3 linked regions of the Homo sapiens genome follow. The protein of the gene in region 3 purifies or fractionates together with the protein of the main gene of each other region. This does not show direct contact. Each region holds a gene or a part of one and is shown on either strand. Other genes may lie near its edges. The genes, in order: SMC2, NCAPH and GPR137B.

Region 1 (3,650 bases), on a different chromosome or scaffold from region 3:
ATTTTTTTTTGTTTTTTGTATTTTTAGTAGAGACGGGATTTCGCTATGTTGGCCAGGGTGGTCTCAATCTCCTGACCTCATGATCTGCCCGCCTTGGCCTCCCAAAGTGCTAGGATTACAGGTGTGAGCCACGGCGCCTGGCCCAAGATTTTGTTTTTAAAAATGTTGTCAACTCCTATTTACTGTCCATCTTATCATTTATCACTTACAGATTTTCTCCTCTATTTTAATGGAAGCCTCTGGTTGAAAAAAAAAAAAAAAAAAGAAGCGTAGGCCACGTTAGGACAGAATCCTGTTCCATGTCATTAGGCATCCATCAAATATTTATCCTTTAGGAACTGTCACTAAGTCTCTTACTAATAATCTACCTAATTGTTCCTGTCCTCATTCAGGCCATAAACTTGTATCTTCACCAAAATTATAAAATTTTTGTCAGAGAAGGGTCTTCAAATACATTAATATATGAACTACCAACCTAGTAGTCCTGTCAGGAAAAGAAATGAACTAACATTTATTCAATATTTATTAAATAGTTGATGTATATTGGGTGTTCTTGAATGTACTGGGATGTACAGTTAGAAGAATGAGAAACAGAGCTTGTCTTTAAGGACTTCAATCTGGTAGATGAGACAATCATACCCAATAAATGACAATTTAAGTGTGATAGTAGAGTATGGTGTCTGGGATGACTTAATGAAACCATACTGAAGCTCCATGATTACCCTTTCTTTTAAATGGTCATAAATCATGTCTTTATTAATAGCTTTTTGAATCTTGTCAAGAATTGATACTAAGCTACTTTGTCTGACATCTATTCCTGTTGAAAAGTAGAGAAAGCCTCTAGAAAAATTACAGAAAGAAAGTAACTAGGAAAGTGTGTTTTACATATACTTGGAAACATAAAGCTAGAAGTTACCTCGGAGACCTAGTCTGGTGCAGGCCAGGGTAAGAGGCTTGTGTGTAATTACATAACTAGTTACCAAAAGTACTTGCATTAGATACTAGCTGTCCTGACTCAAGTTAGCGTTTTTGACCATGTCATACTTGTTCCACTATTTATGCAGAATTGGTTTTGTTTACTGCTAGTCAGACAGAACAAATAAACGTAAGCTAATATACTTAGTTTATCCTAGCACAAGGTGTGCATGTACATTAATATTTAAAAAATTGCTTTCTTTTATAGGTGGTTATTGGTGGTAGAAATAAATATTTAATCAATGGAGTCAATGCCAACAACACCAGAGTACAGGATCTCTTCTGTTCTGTTGGCCTTAATGTTAACAACCCTCACTTTCTCATCATGCAGGTATTTCGTTTGAGGTCTTTATATCACTTTCGTAATAGTTTCGACATTTTTTACTTTTAAGCAATTAAAATAGAAGTACTTTATGTTTTGGATTTTATACTTTTTATTTACTATTGTGCTGTGTCCGGCCATCTGTTTAGAAATATGGTTTAGTTACTTGCACTGATATATTCTACTGGATTATAGACCTTTGACTCCTCTAGAATGTTTAGAAGTAATTTTTGTTGACTTTTTGTTTTGTCACTAAAAGAACAATACATGTTAACTGTAAAAAAAAAAAAGCCATAATATATCCTTTTAAATTATTGGATTAATGCATCTTAATATTTCAAGTATAAAAGCTTGAGTAATTTTCTTAGAGACTCACACAAATGAGGAGTAAAGGCTGATTTTATCTTACATTTACATTACTTCATTTGACCCATCCAGCTGCCGTTTGAGAGAATTATAGTAAAGTCGATGGGAGCATCTCAGTGGGACCAAAATAAAAATATTTCCACTACACACCTTCATAGTTGAAACTTTACTTTAAATGAATCTACATTCTAGTAATACAATTCTCTGAGACCTGGGTGTGCAGGTGTTTTGCTTTATTTGTTTTTGGTAATGAATAAATTTAATGGTTTTCTGGCATTGATGTAAAATATTGTATTTTGTTTGAGGCCTAGAAGTATGTCATCTGTTTTGTGAAATTATCCTGGAGGGTTATCATTCAAAGAAATGTTAAAAGTTTTTTAATTATGCTGAAATTTCTTTTTATATTTACCTGTTTTAAATTTGAATATTTCTACTTAATGTTAACTGTCTCAGAAACATGATCCTTGTTAACTTTGTATCATTTAATGAATTATTTCATTTGTATCATTTCATAACTTCCATAATTTGTATCACTGGTGAGAAAGTGAATAGCAAAGTTCCAAAATTCTAGAATCATAGAAGAATTATAGAGGAAAGACCCCCCCAAAGATTGGTATATTGAGATACAACAGCTTCAGTCTAGATAAACATGAATGGCAGTACAGATAAACATTTTCTGTAATTTGTTATCTTAGTAAGTTTGCTATTTTATTTTCAGGGCCGAATTACAAAAGTATTGAATATGAAACCTCCAGAGGTAAGAGTACTATTTATGGACATTAAAAATAGTTGGTATAGATATTACTTTAATCTTTCAGACAATTTTTAAATATTCTATTAAAATTTTTGGAGACATTATTTGGGAATGATTAGTAAAGACAGTTGTATATTTGTGTAATATTTGGCACTATGCCCAAATATTAAAATTGATTTTGATTGTATAAAGGAGTCTTGCTTAGCTGGTGTTTCATGTCAGAATTCATTCCTACAGAAAAAGCCTACAGGAAAAGGTTTGTGTGAAATTACTATATTTAACCTATATGGTTCATTTGGGCCAACTTTTGGTAAGATGTTTAGTGAGGTCAAGGCAAAAATGATATATTTAATGTAAATTCCAGTTGGACACATTGTCTTGGATACTAAACATTAATAAAATTGTCATTCCAGATTTTATCCATGATAGAAGAAGCAGCTGGAACCAGGATGTATGAATACAAAAAAATAGCTGCACAGAAAACTATAGAAAAAAAGGAGGCTAAGCTGAAAGAAATTAAGACGGTAATTTAATTCATATAAAATATTTTCGGAGAAGAATGTAATTTTGCATGTAGAGTTTTTGCTGTAAAGAGGGAAAAATTTTTTTCCTTGGTTCAGTTTTCCATAGTCATCCCTGCTACTTCTCTTTCAAATAAATTTTAATGATACTTTACATGCGAAAATACTGATTTTTCTTTATTTTCCAGATACTTGAAGAAGAGATTACTCCAACCATTCAAAAATTAAAAGAGGTATATTCTGTATATGTGAGGATAATCTATTAGAATGTCTTTCAAAGTCAGCAATGTATCCAAAATCATACACATAGTGATACTATTTCTTGGGGGTTTTTTTCCTGCGATGAGATAAGGAATTAGAGTTGGCACTCCATAACTCAGCGTTCTGCTTACAGAGGATATGCACTTATCTGCTAAGTCATAGGATATTGGAGAGTAATTTTTATAGTTTCAGAAAATGGTATGCCGAATTTTAATACTTTATTTAAGCTAAGCAAGTCTGGATTTTCCTAGTTAGTTAGCATTGACTGGAACAACATTTCTTAAAGATAAGGCACTCTTAGACACCCTCATTGAGAACAATTTCCAGGATAACAGGGGCTATCACTATAATTATTGCTATCAAGGTATTTTGTAAGCAAAAGGTATTGAAACAGAGGATTGGATTGTCTCTGTAATCTTTGCAGCTCCTGACTGTCAAAAGACATGGCACA
Region 2 (3,650 bases), on a different chromosome or scaffold from region 3:
GCTTTTGAGACAGGGTCTCACACTGTCACCCAGGCTGAAGTGCAGTGGTGAATCATGGCTTACTGCAGCCTTGACCTCCTGGGCTTAAGCGTCCTCCCACCTCAGCCTTCTGAATAGCTGGGACTGCAAGGGCATGCCAGCATGCTCAGTTAATTTTTAAATTTTCCATAGTGATGGGATCCCGCTTTGTTGCCTAGGCTGGTCTCGACTCCTGGCCTCAAGTGATCCTCCTGCCTTAGCCTCCCAAAGTGTTGGGATTACAGGCATGAGCCACTGCACCTGGCCAAGCATATGTTTCTGATGTGTTTTCTTAGCCAAAACACAAATTATAAGTTTAGGATGAAAAGAGGGTGTGTGATTGAGCACTCCTACTGTTGTGATGCTCAGACACAATGCTGCCTTGTGGTTTTGATAAGCCTTGATAAGGCTGTCAGCAGATCTTGTGAAATGAGTAAATAGTTTAGGCCACAGAAGTGAAGTGCTGACGTCTGTGTTCACTCTGCAGAAGATGCTCCTTCCCAATCAGAAAACAAAAAGAAGAGTACAAAAAAAGATTTTGAAATTGACTTTGAAGATGATATTGACTTTGATGTATATTTTAGAAAAACAAAGGTTTGTACTGAATTTATTAGGATTGTGCTTACTCGTTTTTCCCTTTCAGATGTGATTTTTTAAAATTCCGTATAAATTTAACTGTTAGAGCAAACAGATGGTTTCATTCTTCCTTGTTCCTTAAACGCACTATTAAGAAATAGTCCTAAACTCAGTGGCAGAAAGAATCAAATTTAGAATAAAAAGAATAATGCTAGCAAAATCACTTTTTTACATAGAACTGTGAGACTGATGGTAGACTCATGCTGCCCAAACCCTTCCCAGACTGCTTTAAAAAAAGTAAGATGTTTTGCCCACTGTTAAAATGCCTAAAACACTTTTTTTAAAAAAATTAATAGGCTGCTACTATTCTGACCAAGTCCACTTTGGAGAACCAGAATTGGAGAGCTACCACCCTTCCTACAGATTTCAACTACAATGTTGACACTCTGGTCCAGCTTCACCTCAAACCAGGCACCAGGGTAAGCCTATTTCTTGGTTCCTTTAAGCACACAAGGTATCAAGTGGCTGATAGTATGACAGTTAGGCAGTGCCTTTGAGGAAAAGGGAGAATGTGAGGAGTGGTATGTGTTAGCCAAAGCGTGTTGCCAGGAAATCAAATAGATAAGGCAAAGAAAGCTAAAAGGAAAGGCTTATATGATGGACACACAGTAAACACTTGGAAATACCTTACCTGGCAAGAATGCTGGATACTGAAGCCTCCATGCTGAAATTCAGGGGGGCAGTGAGTGTAGTTTTTTGGTGAAGTTTCAACAGTTTTTAAGTTATTTCTTGATTCCTTTGCTTTCTCCTTTTTTTTTTTTTTTTTTTTTTTTTTGACAGAGTTTCGCTCTTGTTGCCCTAGGCTGGAGTGCAATGGTGCAGTCTTGGCTCACTGCAACCTCTCCCTCCTGGGTTCAAGCAATTCTCCTGCCTCAGCCTCCCAAGTAACTGGGATTACAGGTGCCTGCCACCATACCCAGTGAATTTTTTGTAGTTTTAACAGGGACAGGGTTTCACTATGTTGGCCAGGCTAGTCTCGAACTCCTGACCTCAGGCGATCCACCCACCTCAGCCTCCCAAAGTGCCAGGATTATAGGTGTGAGCCACTGTGCCCACCTGATTCCTTGGCTTTCTCATTGAAGTTGTGGATTTACTCACCAATTGCTTTATACAGTGAGGTTGCCTTACTCATGATCCAAGTCGAAGCGAGCCCAAGGTGACACACGGGCTCACATCCTCAGGAAGTCTCCTAGGGCTCTACAGGCTGCTGGGGCTCCTTCTGAGATTGTCACATGGAGCCTTCTGAATTACCTGGTGTTGCACCCTGATTACTGCCTCCTTCATTTGCCTGGGGCTCTTCTCACATGTCCCTGCTGACAGGGTAAGCAGTGGTTCGTGTAAACCATTCCATTCACATCCTCTGCTTACTTGCATTACTGGTTCTCCTACTCTCATGGAGTGTATTAAGACTTTATACTTTCCTCTTTATTTTGCCTGTTTTTCCACAAGATTTTAATGATATATATATATATATATACATATATATATATACACATATATATGTATATATATGTGTATATATATATATATATATATATTTTTTTTTTTTTTTCCCTGAATTGACTGATATTACACATTCTATTTGTTTTTTTGTATTTTTTTTTAGAGACAGGGTCTTGCTCTGTTGCCCAGGCCATAGTCCAGTGGTGTAATTGGAGCTCATTGTAACTTTGAACTCCTGGATTCAAGCAGTCATCCTGCCTCAGCCTCCCAAAGTACAGGGATTACAGGCGTGAGCCGTTACACCTGGCCTCACATTCTGTTTTTATAAACTAACCAAGATATGTTTTTCTTTCTGATCAATATTGTTTACTTCAATAGAAATACTCTTTTTTTTTCAGTCCTAGCTACTTGGGGGCCTGAGGCTATAGTAAGCTATGATCATGCCAGTGCACTCCAGCCTGGGGGACAAAGTGAGGCCTCATCTCAGAAAAGCAAAACAAAAAAAAAATTGTGATTCATGAGAGGGGGTCAAAATATCAACATTAACAGGAGTTTGGAAGAAGTTGATTCTGACTCTTATGGATGATTTTGAGGGGTTCAAGACTTCAGTGGAGGCCAGTCACGATGGCTCACGCCTGTAATCCTAGCACTTTGGGAGGCCGAGGTGGGTGGATCGCTTGAGGCTAGGAGTTTGAGACCAGCCTGAGCAACATGGCGAAACCCCGTCTCTACTAAAAATACAAAAATTAGCCAGACATGGTAGTGCAGGCCTATAGTCCTGGCTACTCAGGAGGGTGAGGCACGAGAATCACTGGAACCCAAGAGGTGGAGGTTGCAGTGAACTGAGATTACAGTACACTGCACTCCAGCCTGGGTGACAGAGCAAGACTCTGTCTCAAAAAGACTTCAGTGGAGGAAGTCATTGCAGATGTGGTATGCAGATGTGGTAGAAATAGCAAGAGAACCAGAATGAGAAATGGAGCCTGATGATGTGACTACATTGGTACAATATCCTGATAAAACTTGAATGGATGAGAAGTTGTTTCCTATGGATGAGCAAAGAACATTTTCTTGAGATGGAATTTACTCCTGGTGAAGATGCTGTGAACATTGTTGAAATGATAAAAAAAAAAGATTTAGAATGTTACATAGTCTTAGTTGATATAGCAGTGGCAGTGTTTGAAAAGATTGACTTTGAATTTGAAAGAAGCTCCGCTATGGATAAAATGCTATCAAACAGCATTGTATGCTTCAGAGAAATCTTTAGTGACAGGAAGAGTTGATTGATGTAGCAAACTTCATTGTTGTCTTATTTTAAGAAATTGTCGCAGCCACCCCATCCTTCAGCAACCACCACCCACCCTGACAGTCAGTAGCCATCAACATTGAGGCAAGACCCTTTAACAGCAAAAATATTACAACTCACTGAAGGCTGATATGATCATTATAATTTTTTAGCAATGAAATATTTTTAATTAAGGTATGTAAATTGTTTTTTAGACATATACTGTTGCACACTTAATAGACTCCAGCATAGTATAAGCATAACTTTT
Region 3 (4,083 bases):
ATGGGGGCCCAAGCAACAGTCATTCTTAAAGCTCCCCACTTTAGGTAATTCCAATGGTTTGTGTAAGAGAAAGAGGGGGTGAGCGGGAGAGGAGGAGAAGGGAGGCAGAGCTGGGTTGGCGACAAAAGGCTTTATAACTCCCCAGAAGTATCACAGTTTTGTCACTAAGCCAGAAATGGCTTTGTTCTGCCAGGCTCTGAGATGCCAGCACTCAGAGATGGAGACATGCCACCTTCTCCAGCCAGCCACCCTGTGCCCTCAGGCGAAAAGCCTTTGCTGTGGTGCCCGCAGACCTGGGAGATATAAAGAGTACAGGGCCGTGACTTTGGGCCCCTGGGCCGGAGTGGCTCTGTCTGCCTGGTCACTGTTTCCCTTGCTCAGCATTTACTCACCAACCAGCAGATGGTGCAGAAAATGTGCAGCCCGGCCCCTAATCCGGCTCTAAGTTCAGAATTTGCATGTGATTACCAGAGAGCTGTGGCAGTTCCCTGCATTTTCCTCTTCCCCCACTGCCCCCCAAAAAGGGGACAAATATAAAGAGCTCAACGTGCAATACCACCATTGTCACAGTTCTTAGGGTAACATCACCTCACCTGTCTTTTGCATCTTGCTAGAACCACCTCATTTCAATTACAAAACCCAAGTGTCTGTGCAATGCAGCCGACTGCCTGAACTGGTTTGCAGGTTTAAAGGTTGTACTTGGACAGGCAATACGCATTACTCTCCGACCGGAAAATATGCTGATGCGCTGGACTTACAAGAAGTCTGAGTGTAGACCCATTTTTAAAAGATTATACTATCTACAAAATATCACATATGCTATTTTTTAGCCAAAAGTACTTCTTCCATATTTTCAGTCAGTGGCTTCCACTGTACCAGAGCAATCCTTTTCCTACTTTGTTTTTTTTGTTTGTTTGTTCGTTTGTTTTTTTGAGACAGGATCTAGCTCTGTCACCCAGGCTGGAGTGCAGTGGTTCAATCTCTGCTCACTGCAACCTCCGCCTCCCGGGCTCCGCCTCCCACCTCAGCCTCCTGAGTAGCTGGAACTACAGGCGGGCACTACCACACCCAGCTAATTTTTGTACATTTTGTAGAGAGGAAGTTTCGCCATGTTGCCCAGGCCGGTCTCAAACTCAGGGACACAAGCGATCCTCCCGCCTCCGCCTCCACAATGCTGGGATGACAGGCATGCGCCACCGCATACGGCCTCTTTCTTTTTTTAAATAAGTGACTTTTTCTCAAAAAAAAAAAAAAAGACACTTAAAAGGAATGAGATGCCTGCTTGCACAGGGTTTCTGCCCATCCGACAGTTCTGAAATTACCCTCACCAGGTGACACCGTTGACGCCTTCCCCTTCGGCAGAGTCCTAGTGAAAATGGACATCTTAGTGCTTGGAAAGCTAATGGGAATCAGAGATGATGATGACGATGATGACGGCGGCACCGCGTTATTAAACCTTTGTGCAACGCTATACAAAGTATTTGCAAAGTGCTCAACAATTACTGCACTTTCATTAAGTCAACCATCAGCAGTAAAGCAGCAGCCAAGTTAATTCACATACTCTCCCATTAGCTTATTTAATAATATGCCCCATAAAGTGATTTTTGTGTGGCTGTAAAAGAGCCCCAGTCAGCTTTTATGGCCTTTTCTTGGGGCCTCTCAGATGAGCTCAGACAGTAACTCTGATGAGCGGCAGCAGCTCGGAGCTGGGTGTTACCCCAGCCTGCTGTTTAGCAATCCGGTGGAATGAGTTAGTAAGCCGCAGTTCTGTAGAGCTCCTAAGCCGGAGGTTCAAAACATCTCATCAAAACCAACATGGTCTCACCCTGCCAACGCTCAAAACAGCAGTGTCAGGCCCAAATCTGGAGGCCAACGTGCAGAAGACCTTTCCAGGCCGGGAGTTAGGTGCCTGGGGAGGCAGGGCAAATTCTAGAGTTCAGGCCTCCCTTGGGGGCACACCTTCCATCCGTACTAACTGGCGTGTGCAGGCGCTGCTGCTTCGCGCTGCGCACGGAGAAGCGCCCCGAATCCACCGCACGATGCGGAGCCAGGGGCAGCGAGTGAGCGGCGGCCTCCAGCCCTCCCCTGCCTTCTCCTTGCCCCTTTTGGGAATGGCAGGGGGTTTCCTATGACAAATGCCCGCAAACAGGACAGGGTTCGGACGACCCCAGAGCCGGCGCCTTCTCCCTACACTCTCAGCCCTAGGGCCGGACCCGCCCCCGCGGCTGCCATCGCCCCTGCCTCGGGCGCCCCGCGGGGACCACCCCGCCAGGTGAGCGCCTCCAGGAGCCTCTCTGAAACTCACCTGCGTGAAGTACAAGTTCATCAGCGTGAGGGTGAAAAACTGCAGGCACACAGGGAAGCAGTAGAGCAGCCAGAAGACGAAGGGGCTGAGCGAATTGGCCGCCACGAAGTCTTTGAAGTAGAAGGAGAAGAGGACGGTCCGCAGGGAGGCCCAGAAGAGGCAGAGAAAGAGGAAGACGCTCTGGTAGCTGAGCCGCTTGTGGCGGTAACGCAGCACCAGCCAGAGCTGCACGTAGATGAACACGAAGAGCAGCGCGTAGAACACGGTGTAGACGACGGTGAGGCCAAGCTTCACGTAGGGGGGCACGGCCGGGGTCAGCGTGGGCGGCAGCGAGTCGTTGCGGGCTGGGTCCCACGGCGGGGTCTCCATCGGGCCGGGGGCGCTGCCGCGCGGCCGGGGACGCTCGGGCCTCATCGGGGCTCACGGCCGCCGCCGCCCCCGCGGGGGTCTCCGCGCATCGCGCTCAGCCTGCAGCCCCGAGACTGGAGGAAAGAAAACAAGCCGCACTTCCTCCCCCGGCACCACATGATTCACTGGGACGGCCTTTGTCTGCGATTGGCAGCGCCGCGCCCGCCGCCCCCGCGCGCCGACCGGCCCCGCGCGCCCCCGCCCCGGCCCGCGCGCCCCCGCCCCGGCCCGCGCGCCCCGGCCCGCCCTCCCCCGGGCACCGCGCGCCTTCGCCCCGCGAACCCCGGCCCGCCCTATCCTCGCCACCGCGCGCTCCCGCAGTGCGCGCCCCCAGAGCCGCACGCCTCCTCCCGGCCCCCTCCCCATCCCCGGGGCCGCGCGCTCCCAGACTGCGGGCCCCCAGAGCCCCGCGTCTCTTCCCCCCTTCCCGCCCCCTCCCCATCCCAGGGGCCGCGCGCTACCCGTCCCCGGCCCCTTCCCCATCCCCGGGGCCGCGCGCTCCCGCACTGCGCGCCCCCAGAACCGCGCGCCTCCTCCCCGGTCCCGGCACCGCGCCGCGCGCCCCCAAAACTTCCCAGCCGCGCCCCGCGCCTCGGGGGATCGCACTCGTGGCCTCGCGCATTCTGCTGCTGATTGCTTGTTTTGCAGAAGTTAATTCCTTTATTTAAAAACAAATTTAAAAAAAAAACTTTACAAGTCCTTTCCGTCCCCCCCTTTAAAAATAAAACTTTACGACTCTGTGGCTATGAACTGGCCGGCGTCTGGAATGATGTTTATTTCTAAATGCAGACATGCCAAAGACAGGGTTCGTATTTTTGAGGTCAAATTTGTATACTGAGTGAGGAAATAGACGGTGCCTGCGGCTGCTGCCTCCTCTGGGATGCAAGCTGGGCTGTTTTCTCCCGGAGAGCCTCACGCGCTCCCAGCGCCTCACCTCCCAGCGATGTAGCCGGTGCCGGGAGGCGCGCGGGCCGCGGGTCAGTGGATGGAGCCCACTGGGCTTCAGAGAGAAGTGGGGCAGCTGACGGCACACGGCCCCCCTTGTCCGATCCAACCCATGCCGAAGGAGGGTCTGTCCCCGCCACCCGAGAGCCCTTCTCTTTTGCTTTTGCTGAGCAGCTCGCTCCTCGAGGCTGTACAGCGACTTAGTCTTTGCCCCGGGGCACCACGCCACCCTTGTCTTGGGAGAGCTGGGGAGTGCTCTGGGAAAAGAGGGAAAGCCGGGCGCCCTCTGGAAACATTGCTGGGCAAGCGGTTCTGGTAAACAGAAGAAACTCGGATTTCCGAGGCTCCAGTAATTGTGATTTCTTTTCTTACTCCACTTCGTGCCTAATTGTGTGTTCTTTTTCCAAAAGACGGCCTGGCATATC

Evidence for each region.
Region 1: the proteins of GPR137B (region 3) and SMC2 purify together in Homo sapiens (affinity purification with mass spectrometry; 2 studies listed by BioGRID and IntAct, with this or other methods). This does not show direct contact.
Region 2: the proteins of GPR137B (region 3) and NCAPH purify together in Homo sapiens (affinity purification with mass spectrometry; 3 studies listed by BioGRID and IntAct, with this or other methods). This does not show direct contact.

Annotation. Positions count from the first base shown.
Region 1 is NC_000009.12:104,097,263-104,100,912, forward strand, and holds part of SMC2 (structural maintenance of chromosomes protein 2), read left to right. Parts: intron 1-1,183; coding exon 1,184-1,306; intron 1,307-2,381; coding exon 2,382-2,420; intron 2,421-2,830; coding exon 2,831-2,941; intron 2,942-3,126; coding exon 3,127-3,171; intron 3,172-3,650. UniProt on the Homo sapiens protein: Central component of the condensin complex, a complex required for conversion of interphase chromatin into mitotic-like condense chromosomes.
Region 2 is NC_000002.12:96,359,638-96,363,287, forward strand, and holds part of NCAPH (condensin complex subunit 2), read left to right. Parts: intron 1-505; coding exon 506-612; intron 613-950; coding exon 951-1,073; intron 1,074-3,650. UniProt on the Homo sapiens protein: Regulatory subunit of the condensin complex, a complex required for conversion of interphase chromatin into mitotic-like condense chromosomes.
Region 3 is NC_000001.11:236,141,259-236,145,341, reverse strand, and holds the start of GPR137B (integral membrane protein GPR137B), read right to left. Parts: upstream 2,804-4,083; 5' UTR 2,720-2,803; coding exon 2,306-2,719; intron 1-2,305. UniProt on the Homo sapiens protein: Lysosomal integral membrane protein that regulates the localization and activity of mTORC1, a signaling complex promoting cell growth in response to growth factors, energy levels, and amino acids.